Homo sapiens: one gene and its partner. The protein of the gene in region 1 interacts with the protein of each later gene in a pairwise test. Each region holds a gene or a part of one and is shown on either strand. Other genes may lie near its edges.

What was found.
Region 2: the proteins of ANXA9 (region 1) and PPL interact in binary tests that used the Homo sapiens proteins (3 or more experiments, as listed by UniProt).

Annotation. Positions count from the first base shown.
Region 1 is NC_000001.11:150,992,027-150,996,157, forward strand, and holds the end of ANXA9 (annexin A9), read left to right. Parts: intron 1-2,550; coding exon 2,551-2,673; coding exon of another isoform or gene 2,674-2,787; exon of another isoform or gene 2,788-3,233; coding exon 3,234-3,296; 3' UTR 3,297-3,608; downstream 3,609-4,131. UniProt on the Homo sapiens protein: Low affinity receptor for acetylcholine known to be targeted by disease-causing pemphigus vulgaris antibodies in keratinocytes.
Region 2 is NC_000016.10:4,891,935-4,899,222, forward strand, and holds part of PPL (periplakin), read right to left. Parts: intron 7,187-7,288; coding exon 7,079-7,186; intron 5,837-7,078; coding exon 5,741-5,836; intron 4,647-5,740; exon of another isoform or gene 3,783-4,646; coding exon 3,660-3,782; intron 3,501-3,659; exon of another isoform or gene 3,474-3,500; coding exon 3,327-3,473; intron 2,733-3,326; coding exon of another isoform or gene 2,685-2,732; coding exon 2,533-2,684; intron 1,705-2,532; coding exon 1,607-1,704; intron 1,437-1,606; coding exon 1,279-1,436; intron 280-1,278; coding exon 101-279; intron 16-100; coding exon 1-15. UniProt on the Homo sapiens protein: Component of the cornified envelope of keratinocytes. May link the cornified envelope to desmosomes and intermediate filaments. May act as a localization signal in PKB/AKT-mediated signaling.

The DNA of each region.
Region 1 (4,131 bases):
AAAGTGCTGGGATTACAGGCGTGAGCCACCGTGTCCAGCCTGTATTATTCTTTTATGAGAGATATGTAGATATATGAAAACATAAATTGTGAAGAATATTTATTCAGAAAAACAACCTTCAGAAAATCAGCAATGGCTGATTCAGGACAAATTTCCACCAATCTGTAGTAAAAATTAATGTTCCTGGTGAAGATCCTAGGGCCATATGCAATGCCAGGTATACGATTAAGTATTATAATTAGGCCAGGCATGGTGGCTCATGCCTGTAATCCCAGCACTTTGGGAGGCCAAGGCAGGTGAATCACCCGAGGTCAGGAGTTCGAGACCAGACTGACCAACATGGTGAAACCCCGTCTCTACTAAATATACAAAATTAGCTAGGTGTGGTGGTGTGCACCTGTATTTCCAGCTACTTGGGAGGCTGAGATAGGAGAATTGCTTGAACCTGGGAGGCAGAGGTTACAGTGACCTGAGATCGCACCACTGCACCCCAGCCTGGGTAACAGAGTGAGACTCCATCTAAACAAACAAACCATATATATATATGCTGAAGCGAGCAGATCACTTGAGGTCAGGAGTTTGAGACCAGCCTGGCCAACATGGTAAAACCCCACCTGTACTAAAAATAAAAAAATTAGCTGGGCGTTTGGCACATGCTATAGTCCCAGCTGCTTGGGAGGCTGAGGCAGGAGACTTGCTTGAACCTGGGAGGCGGAGGTTGCAGTGAGCTGAATTCACGCCACTGCATTCCACTCTGGGTGACAGAGCAAGAAAAAAGAATACTTGTACAACAATGAGAGTATTCAGTTAATGAGTGACTCTTGCCCAATTCTGTAACTTTAGAGTAACAAGCGTTGGAAGAAGAGAAGAATGGATACTGGGGAGCAATTGGCAATCTTTATGACAATACAAAACTAATGATGCATAAAAGTTAAAATGAAGTAGACATTAGGTCCACTGACAATTAGGTAATGAGTCTAAATGAATTGGAGCATCCTGTTTTACTTCATTTTCTTTTGTTTTGTCAAAGGAGTTTATGATCTATTGGGATGCCCTAAGTATGTGTTGTAGGCAGTTCTGGGAAGAGTCTTGTGAGTAAAGTGACTCAGGAAACTCTGAAAATGAGGATATTAGGAATTGATGACAACACTGGTGCACAGAAAAAAAAAAACACAGGAATTTTACAATTAAAAGTTTTTATTTAAAAATCTCTCATAACAACACATTACTTAGTATAATCAATTATAATTCAGGATTTTGATGACTTGTACCTGTGTTATTTCTTTTCTTTTCTTTTTTTTTGAGACGGAGTCTTGCTCTGTCCCAGGCTGGAGTGCAGTGGTGTGATCTCAGCTTACTGCAACGTCCGCCTCCCAGGTTCAAGCAATTCTCCTACCTCACCCTCCTCAGTAGCTGGGATTATAGGCGCCTACCACCACACCTGGCTAATTTTTGTAGTTTTAATAGAGACGGGGGTTTCACCATGTTGGCCAGGCTGGTCTCGAACTCCTGACCATAAATGATCTGCTTGCCTTGGCCTCCCAAAATTCTGGGATTACAGGCATGAGCCACCACACCTGGCCTGTTATTTCTTTTTTCTTTCTTTCTTTTTTTTTTTTTTTTTTGAGACGGAGTTTTGCTCTTCTTGCCCAGGTTGGAGTGCAGTGGCGCGATCTCAGCTCACTGCAACCTCCGCCTCCTGGGTTCAAGCAATTCTCCTGCCTCAGCCTTCCAAGTAGCTGGGATTGCAGGCACCCACCACCATGCCTGGCTTATTTTTGTATTTTTAGTAGAGACGGGGTTTCACCATTTTGGTCAGGCTGGTCTCGAACTCCTACCTCAGATGATCCACGCGCCTCATCCTCCCAAAGTGCTGGGATTACAGGCATGAGCCACTGTGCCTGGCCTGTTATTTCTAAACTGAACCTTTCATTACTTTCTTTAGCCAAAAAACAGGCCTGCTGCATGTACAGGAGGAAGATAGCAATGTTTCAGCCTAAGGGTCCAACCGGAGAAACTAATATGCAGAGATGGGGCTGTGAGATGGCCCTATTGGGTTGGAATCAGAACTAGAAGTCACACAACCTTGAACCCTATCAGAGCCTCATCAGCTCAGTTTAGGGATAGGGCAGGTATATCCTCCTTGGATATTCACTAACTTGAAAGTTAAAAGCAGTTTTCCTGGTTTTCATGCTGGCAGTCTTTATATGCACCAAATCTTTTCTAGCCTTCCTGGTGTACCTATCTTTGGAGCTGCTCACCACCAAATTCTGGAGGTACACAGCTCTAAGCTAATGGTAGGGGCAGGAAAGACATGTGGAAAGAAATAAATACTCAAGCTGCCCCCACAGAGACTGATCTTTCCTGCTGTGTCATCTTCCTTGAGGATGGACAAACATAACTTTTGTCCCGAGATAATGTATAATGTACACTCTTATCCCTTGACTCCCACCTTGCCTCCCCTTCCTACAATAACCCTCCAAGCCATTCAACCCCTACTCTCAGTGAGACTCTCACTAACTACCCCCCATCTCTTTCTTCCCCTACTAGGAAACTGAGCCCAATTACCAAGTCCTGATTCGCATCCTTATCTCTCGATGTGAGACTGACCTTCTGAGTATCAGAGCTGAGTTCAGGAAGAAATTTGGGAAGTCCCTCTACTCTTCTCTCCAGGTGAAACTTGGCTACTTCTTAGCCTGGAGCCTCAGGCCTTCACTCCTCACCTCCACCCTCACTCCCTGCACACAGCTGAGCATATTCTTGCCCCATAGAAAACCCAGTAGTTAGCCAGGCACAGTGGCTCACGCCTGTAATCCCAGCACTTTGAGAGGCTGAGGTGGGCGGATCACGAGGTCAGGAGTTCAAGACCACCCTGACCAACATGGTGAAACCCCGTCTCTACTAAAAATACAAAAATTAGCCAGGCATGGTGGCGTGCACCTGTAATCCCAGCTACTCAGGAGGCTGAGGCAGGAGAGTCGCTTGAACCCAGAAGGCAGAGGTTGCAGTGAGCCAAGATCGTGCCACTGCACTCCCACCTGGGTGACAGGGCAAGACTCCATCTTAAAAAAGAAAACCCAGGAGTCTTTGGTTAATGTAGTGCAGGACTCTGAGCTCCCGGGAGGACCCTTCCCTCCCAGATGAACTGTGATGGACCAGCCCAAAGGAGGGGAGAGAGCACTTGGGCCATAGTGGTGGTGGATCTTTCTAACACTGAATTCCCTTGTCTGCAGGATGCAGTGAAAGGGGATTGCCAGTCAGCCCTCCTGGCCTTGTGCAGGGCTGAAGACATGTGAGACTTCCCTGCCCCACCCCACATGACATCCGAGGATCTGAGATTTCCGTGTTTGGCTGAACCTGGGAGACCAGCTGGGCCTCCAAGTAGGATAACCCCTCACTGAGCACCACATTCTCTAGCTTCTTGTTGAGGCTGGAACTGTTTCTTTAAAATCCCTTAATTTTCCCATCTCAAAATTATATCTGTACCTGGGTCATCCAGCTCCTTCTTGGGTGTGGGGAAATGAGTTTTCTTTGATAGTTTCTGCCTCACTCATCCCTCCTGTACCCTGGCCAGAACATCTCACTGATACTCGAATTCTTTTGGCAAACTTCGCTGTTGTTTGTGTTCCCTGATTGAAGGTTGGGTGGAGCAGGACATGGACCGGGAAGAGGCACTGGAGTTGGAAGTGCCTTTGATGTGCACTTGGCTATTCCGCAGGAATCCTGTTTTGCCTTAGTGCTACAGTAATCCACACCCAGGTCTCCCACTCCAGGTCTCCCCTCACCCTCATTCTCCAGGAAACTTCAGGCAAAATAATTGAGAAACAGGCATTAGAACAAGGTGAGAAATAGAGGGAGCAAAGGACCATCTGTATGAACTGGGAAGCAAGCGGAGGGCCAAGCTACCCTCCCCAGCATGGGAATTCTTGGGTTAGTGGAGAGCACAACCCTCAAATTCATGTGTCCAAGCAGAGATTTGGAAACCCACCTCCCAGGAGAGCACTATTTCCCATAGAAAACAAAAACAAAAACAGAAACAAAAACAAAAAGTCAGGCTTTGGTTCCCCCTGCAGGCTATATTAGAAATGACAGGTAGCTGGGCGCAGTGGCTCACGCCTGTAATTCCAGCAC
Region 2 (7,288 bases), on another chromosome or scaffold:
TTGGCCACATCAACCCTGAGAGCACCAATCAGGCGTCGGGGGATGCCCACCTGGCCCCCTGACCCCACCCCAACCTCCATGCTGCCTGTCTGCCACCCACTTCTCCTGGGCCAAGTCCAGCAGCTGCAGGAGGTGCTCGTATTTCCGGTTGGTGTCCTCCACCCGGGTCCTCAGCAGGGGTGTGGTGCCACTGCCTGGGAGGGCCTGGATGAAGGCTTCGCCCTCAGCCGTGCTCCGCGTCTTCTCAGGTTCAATCCGCAGTAGCTCGTTGGTGATGTTCTGTGGGAACCAGGGCCCCTCAGTTTTGGACACAGCCAGGCAGCCCCTTCCCCTGAGGATGTGCCCAGGGTGAGCACAGATTCCCACATCAGGCACAGTGGAAGCAGCTGGAGAGGCCTGGCACATTCTGGGGCTCTGACCCGGCATCTGGACCCCAGCCTGAGGGCTGTATTTTTCACGAGCATCCCAGGGAACCGCTGAGGTGGAATGGACTAGTGACACCAGAAGCACCCAGGCAGCTGCCGGGCCTGTGCTGTCCTCAGCACTGCACGCGGACGCTTCTGTTTAATCTTTGCGGCAACCCCGGGAGGTGAGTACTACGACTCCACCCAGTCACGGGTGGGGGTGTGACGACTCCCAGCAGCTTAGGAAGGGACTTGTGGGGTCAGGCTACACCCGAGACCGGCATCCTCTCGCCCTGACTTGGCTCTCACTCTGAGGCCCCATCAGGGGCTATGGCACTTCTCCAATCCCAGATCCTCTTCTGTAAAATTGGAGTGCTACTCACTGCCTCAGAGGGCTGCCTTGAGGATGTGGGAGACTTTGTATAGGAAAGGAGGTGGGGGGAGGTGGCCCCTCCACGTCCCCCCTGGCATCAGCTCACCCTGTCCTCGCCACTGCCCTGTGAGCAGGGCCAACCCATCCTACTGAAGACACTGAGGCCTGGAGTTTATAAATACAAACGCTAACGTGTTTGCAGTCAAGCCAGCCGGTGACCCAGTCCTGCGGAATTCCACAGCCCATGTGCCATGCCAGGCGTCAGATCGACAAGCCGTGCAGGAACAATGCAAGTCCTGCCAGCTCTTTCTCCTGGGGAGGTAATGACAGCAGCCCTGCCACCTCCATGACTTGGGACCCTTTTACATGCAGCAGGCTGTCCCTGACAGACAGCTGCAGTGAATATCCCAAGACTCCATGGGGAAAAGACCTCAAATAGGGGCCCCAGGGGGCCAGTGCAGGGCTCCCCCGGCCCCACCTGTGCTCCTGACCCGCAGGTACCTTGAGGTCCTTGGCCCGCTCGGCACTGTCCTGCACAGCCCGGCCTTGCTCCAGTGGTGGCCGCAGGATCCCTGTGATGGCCTTCTCCTGCCGGTCCAGGTCGCTGGCCACCTTGTCCAAGCCAGCCAGCAGCTGCCGCCCCTGTAGGTCAGAGGCATCTGTGGAGGGAGGGAGGACACAGGCAGGTGTGACAACGGGCCAGGGGTGTGAGGCCCAGGGATGGACCTAGGCAGCCAGCCCCCCGCCGTCTCATCCACAGCACAGACCCTGGTCCAGCCCCTCCTCCCCGGTACCCCCAGAGCCTCAGGCGAGTGGCCCTGGCACCCACCTCCGGGATTCTCGGTCTTCAGCACCTCATACCGCTGCTGCAGCGTGCGTTTGCTCCCAGCTGCCTTCTGCCGCACGCTCCGGTACTGGCTGCCCAGGCTGTGAGGACAGAAATGAGCTGGGAACCTGGGCAGCCCACCACCCCCTGCACCCACAGAGGCGGGACTGCGGACTCTGGCTGGGCAGACACCCCAGAGGAGCCTGACAGCTCCTTAGATGCGGACAGCAAGTGCTCACTGTGGCACTGGCCTTTCTGTGCTCCTGGGCTCAGAGCTCTTCTCCCTCCTTCCCTCCTCTTTCGTAGGAAGTCTCACTACCTAAAATTGTCTGTCCAATAATCACCACCAAGATGTTACTTCTGAGGGAGCATACACAGTAGGTGCTCAATAAATACTTAATAAATGAAGGCATTCCTTGAATGATCCACTCATTCAGCAAGGAGTTCCTGGGCACCTACTTTGTACCAGGTACTTAACTAGGCCCTGGAGAGAGGAAATTCAAGGAGCCCAGGCCCAATGAGACTGACGCATACGCTAGTCACTTAATAAAAAGCGGTGCGTGCAGTGGAAGAAGGTGCCTGGGAGCAAAGAGGAGGCAGCCCTTATCCCAGCTGAGTCCTCCAGCCAAGGGGCTGGGGTCTGCAAGTACAGGGAGCAGTGCGTGCGGGAGTCAGGGGCCCTTAGAAACTGCTTAGAAACTCGTGAGGGGGCCAGGACGAAGCCCAGAGCTAGACATTCATGTTTAGCAAGTCAGCTGGCCCACAATCTGCCCCTCTCCTGCATGAACTTCCAAGGGGGTGCAGATGGAGAGTGTCAGCGACCCCGCGCTCCCCACAGGCTGAGTCCAAATCCCCGGGGCTATGAATGGGGCCTGAGAAGCCCTGGGGGTGGGACTGGTCCATGCAGACTCCCGCCTTTGCCCTTGTACCTGTCAGCCAGAGCCAGGGCCTCAGGGTCTGTGGGGGGGATCACAAAACACACGGCCGGAGCAATCAGCTTGTTCCCAGCGCTGTCCATGAGCTCCCAGCTCTCCCCGTTGTTCTTCTGCAGGGTGTAGCTGTAGCCCCGCGAGATCAGGCCCTGGCGGGGGCAGGCTGGACAGTCAGGATCCCGGCAGGGCCTGAGGGCCTGGGAGCCCGGTTGCCATCTCAGCCCCCGACTCTTGGACCTGGGGAGCCCCGGCTCATCACTTGGACCCTCCCCGTAGAGTGGGGAGGGGCATGCAGGAGAAGCACATGTGTTGAGGCTGCCGGCCCAGCAACCCACCTCCATTTCCCTTTGGGGAACCTTCCCTCCCAATTCCCAGTCCCTGTGGTCTCTCCTTCTCCATTCCCAAGCTCCAGATGGACATGTGACTTGGACCTGGCCAATGACTGGCATTCGCCAGCCACAGTCATTGGTATAGGGTGGACCCTGGCATTCCCTGGCCACAGTGATTGGTGTAGGATGGACACGTGACTCACAGTGAGCCAATGAGAACCTGGCCTGGGACTTCTGAGGAGGGACTGGGGTTGCTAAGCTGGTGGAACACAAGGCCAGGGCAGCCGAGGTGGGGGCGGCATAGGGGTGCCAGTTGGCCTGCACCAGGGGAAGGGTTGGCAGAGTGACACCAACCACGGAGACAGGCACAGGCTCCTGAGAACGGCGCCTGAGGCCCGGGATCCAACCATGTTACCCCAAAAACTTTGTAGTGATGTGAACAGAGGAGCTGGCCCCACGCACCTGCTCCCCCTCAAAGTCACAGAGTGCCTCCACGGGGATGGGCTTGAGCGGAGTCTCCCGGCGGTACTTGAGGGGCACCACCTGCTGGCCTCGCTTCTGCAGCCCCTGCACCACGTCCTCATACTTGTCCAGCACCTTCTCCTGGTCCTGGAGAGAACGGGGTCAGGGGCCCAGGTGAGACCAACAGCCTTCCCCCTGGTGGGAGGACGCAGAGCAGGGGCTGGATTCAGCAGGTGGGGTGCTGTGGAGGGGCCTGTACAGGGCTGAGGGCAGGCATGGTGTAGAGGGGTCCCCCGCCCCCCGGGCCAGCAGGGGTCCTGGGCCATCGCTCACATCCAGCTCCCGCAGCAGCAGCTCAATCTGGTACCGGTCCTTGAAGTCAGGGCCATACTTCTGGTTCAGGTCCGAGTCCACCTTGCGCAGCAGCTCCTGAGCGTCCTTCACGTCTTCGTGAAACTAGGGGAGAAGGTGGCTCTGTTACAGCCAGGAAACCACTAGAAGCACCTGGGCTTCTGTCGGAGGCTTCAAGCTCATCCCTCAGGCGGGGCTGGGCCTCCGGTTCACCTGGAGTCCAGCATGGGACCCTGTGCTGAGCCTGAGGCTCCTCTGCGTGGAGACAGCCCCACCCTCCCTGAGCTGGCTCCTTAGGGGCCTCACTGGGAAAAGCCAGGTCCCTTCCCACCCATCCATGAGATGCCACCTCTGTGACATGTTTTCTTGGATGTATCAGTAAGTCTTGAGGTGTCTTTGATTCAGTTCCTCTCTCTGTACTAGGAACATCCAGACTTAATACTATAGCTTCTTTCTAGGTTTTGATAATAGCCTCCCCTTTTTGTTCTCGAAAATTCTCTTGCCCATTCTTCAGTCTATCAACTCTTGGTTCACTGTCAGCTATCCCCTGGGCTGAGCACCTGGGCTGCAGCCATAAACAGGACCTGAAGCCCCCACTGTGCGGCTCAGACAGGGAATGAGGAGTGACACGGCGTCGCCCACATCCAGCTTTCCCCAGACACCTCAATCCTAAGAATTACCCGCAGCTTCTTAAGAACTCTCATTCCTCTGGAAACAGACAAGTGTCCAGCCACAGATGAGTGGATAAACACAGTGGTCTAGCCATACAATAGGATATGATTCAGCCATAAAAAGGGGTGAAGCACTGAAAATGCTACAACACGGATGAACCCGGAAAACATGATGCTCAGTGAGAGAAGCCAGACACAAAAGGGCAGAGATTGCATGATCCCACTGATTCTTCATATTCGTTCTAGGTGTGACACTTCTGGAACAGGCAAGTCCATAGAGACAGCAAGAAGACCAAAGGTGACCTGGGGCTGGGGGAGTGGGAATGGAAAACTTACTGCCTAATGAGTACGGGGTTGTTTTTTTTTTTTTTTTTTGAGGCGGAGACTCACTCTGTCGCCCAGGCTGGAGTGCAATGGCGCGATCTCAGCTCACTGCAACCTCTGCCTCCTGGGTTCAAGCAGTTCTCCTGCCTCAGCCTCCCATCTGGGACTACAGATATGGGCCACCACACCTGGCTAACTTTTGTATTTTAGTAGAGATGGGGTTTCATCATGTTGGCCAGGCTGGTCTTGAACTCCTGACCTCAGGTGATCCAGTCGCCTCGGCTTCCCAGAGTGCTGGAATTACAGACATGAGCTACCGTGCCCAGCCAGGGTATAGGGTTTCTGTTTGGGGTGATGGAAAGTTTTGCAAGTAGATGGTGGTGATGGTTGCATAACATTGCGAATGCAATGAATGCCACTGAATTGTACACTTAAAAATGCAAACTGGCCGGGTGTGGTGGCTCACACCTGTAATCCCAACACTTTAGGAGGCCGAGGCGGGAGGATCACCTGAGGTCAGGAGTTCGAGACCAGCCTGACCAACATGGCGAAACCCCATCTTTACTGAAAATACAAAAATTAGCTGGGTGTGGTGGTGGGCACTTGTAATCCCAGCTGTTCAGGAGGCTGAGGCAGGAGAATCACTTGAACCCAGGAGGTGGAGGTTGTAGTGAGCCGAGATGGCACGACTGCACTCCAGCCTGGGTGACAGGGCAAGACTCTCTCAAAAAAAAAAAAAAAAAAAAAAAAGGCAAATTTTGTTTTATGTATCTGCATGTATATTATAGATTTTACCAAAATTAAAACCCTACACACTCACCCTGGGCCCCATGTGACCTGGGGAATCAGACTCTGGCCCTGGTCCCCAGGGAAGTTGGACAGGGGCCGGCAAGCTTGGGACATGTCTGCACACGCCATCAGAAGCATGGGTGCTGGGGGCCTGGGATGGCTGCCCCGCAAGGCTCCTGGACCAAGGAGCACGAGGCCACACATGAGCCAGGTAGGCACTGAGCGCTCTCAGAGAGTAGCACCCCCGGTGCTGGGGGGACTCCCAGGAAAGGTAAGTACCTGGTGGTAGTCCTCCATGTACTTGAGGTGGCTCTCCTCGCAGATGAGCAGGTTCAGGTACTCCTTCCAGTCTGCGTGCACAGCCTCCATGTGCGCCTGCCAGGAAGAGAAGGGGCCGGTCACCACTGGGCAGGTACTGCAGACACCAAGGGAGGGACTGCTGGGATATTGGGCTGGGGCATGGCGGGGGAGGGAGGCATCTGGCATCTGTCTGGGTGTGGCTACCACAGGGGTAGCCAGCTTCTGCTCAGGAGTGGGAGGAGGAGAGAGGGGTCACGTCAAGGAGCCAAACAGGGATGCCACATACGGATGCCCAGGCTGTGCAGTGCACAAAGGGCAAGTGGGGGCTGTGGTGCCTTCGGCAAATCTGTACAAAGGCACTGTCATGGACCGAACAGTGTCCCACCAAATCCATGACCCTGGCCAGGCATGGTGGCTCACACCTGTAATCGCAGCACTTTGGGAGGCCGAGGCGGGTGGATCACCTGAGGTCAGGAGTTTGAGACTAGCCTGGCCCACATGATGAGACCCTGTCTCTACTAAAAATACAAAAATTAGCTGGGCATGATGGTGTGCGCCTGTAGTCCCAGCTACTTGGGAGGCTGAGGCAGGAGAATTGCTTGAACCCGGGAGGTGGAGGTTGCAGTGAGCCAAGATTACACCATCGCACTCCAGCCTGGGCAACAACAGCGAAACTCCATCTCAGGCGGGGTTGGTGGCATTGTGGGGGTTGGGAAGAATGCGACCTTATTTGGGAATAAGATCTTTGCAGATGTCATTAGTTAAGGATCCTGAAATTAGGGTGAGCCCTAAATCCACTGACTGATATCCTTATAAGAAGAGAGGATACAGAGAGACATGGGGAGAGAAGGCCATGTGAAGACGGAGGAAGGGACTGGAATGATGCAGCCACAAGCCAAGGGCTGTTGGCAACCCCCAGAAGCCGGAAGAGCAAGGAAGGCACATGTCCTGGAGCTTCCAGAGGGAATGAGGCCCTAAGACACCTTGATTTCAGACTTACAGCCCACAGACCTCTGAGAGAATGAATTTCTGTTGTTTAAAGCCACTAAGTTTGTTTTAACTTGTTGCAGCAACTCTAGGAAACTAATACAGACCCCACAGGGGCTTCAGAAGTCCAGGGGCTGAGGGCAGAAGTGTCAACGGATCAGGATAAATGGAGGAGGCAGAGTCAGACACAGCAAGAAAGAGACAGACAGACACAAGATGCAGCTTGCAGGACCCCCAGCTCCGGGGTCTGCCCGAGCTCCAGGCGGCCCACAGGCAGCGGCCAACCAGAAGCCACCCTGGGGGAGGTGTCTGGTCTCGGGGTGCATGAACCTCAATGGAGTTCCTCCCGGGGTGCTCGGCCGCCAGCAGCTGGTCGCCCTCGCTGTGCAGTTTGTTGATTCTCTCCTCTTTGGCCTCCAGGTTCCGGTTGATGAAATTCTGCAGTGGGGGGCAGTGGAGGGGCCTCAGTGCCCAGCCTGGCGGTCCCGTGCTCCTTCCAGGGCTGCCTCCTCCCTGATGCCCCAGGCCCCCAGAACCCAC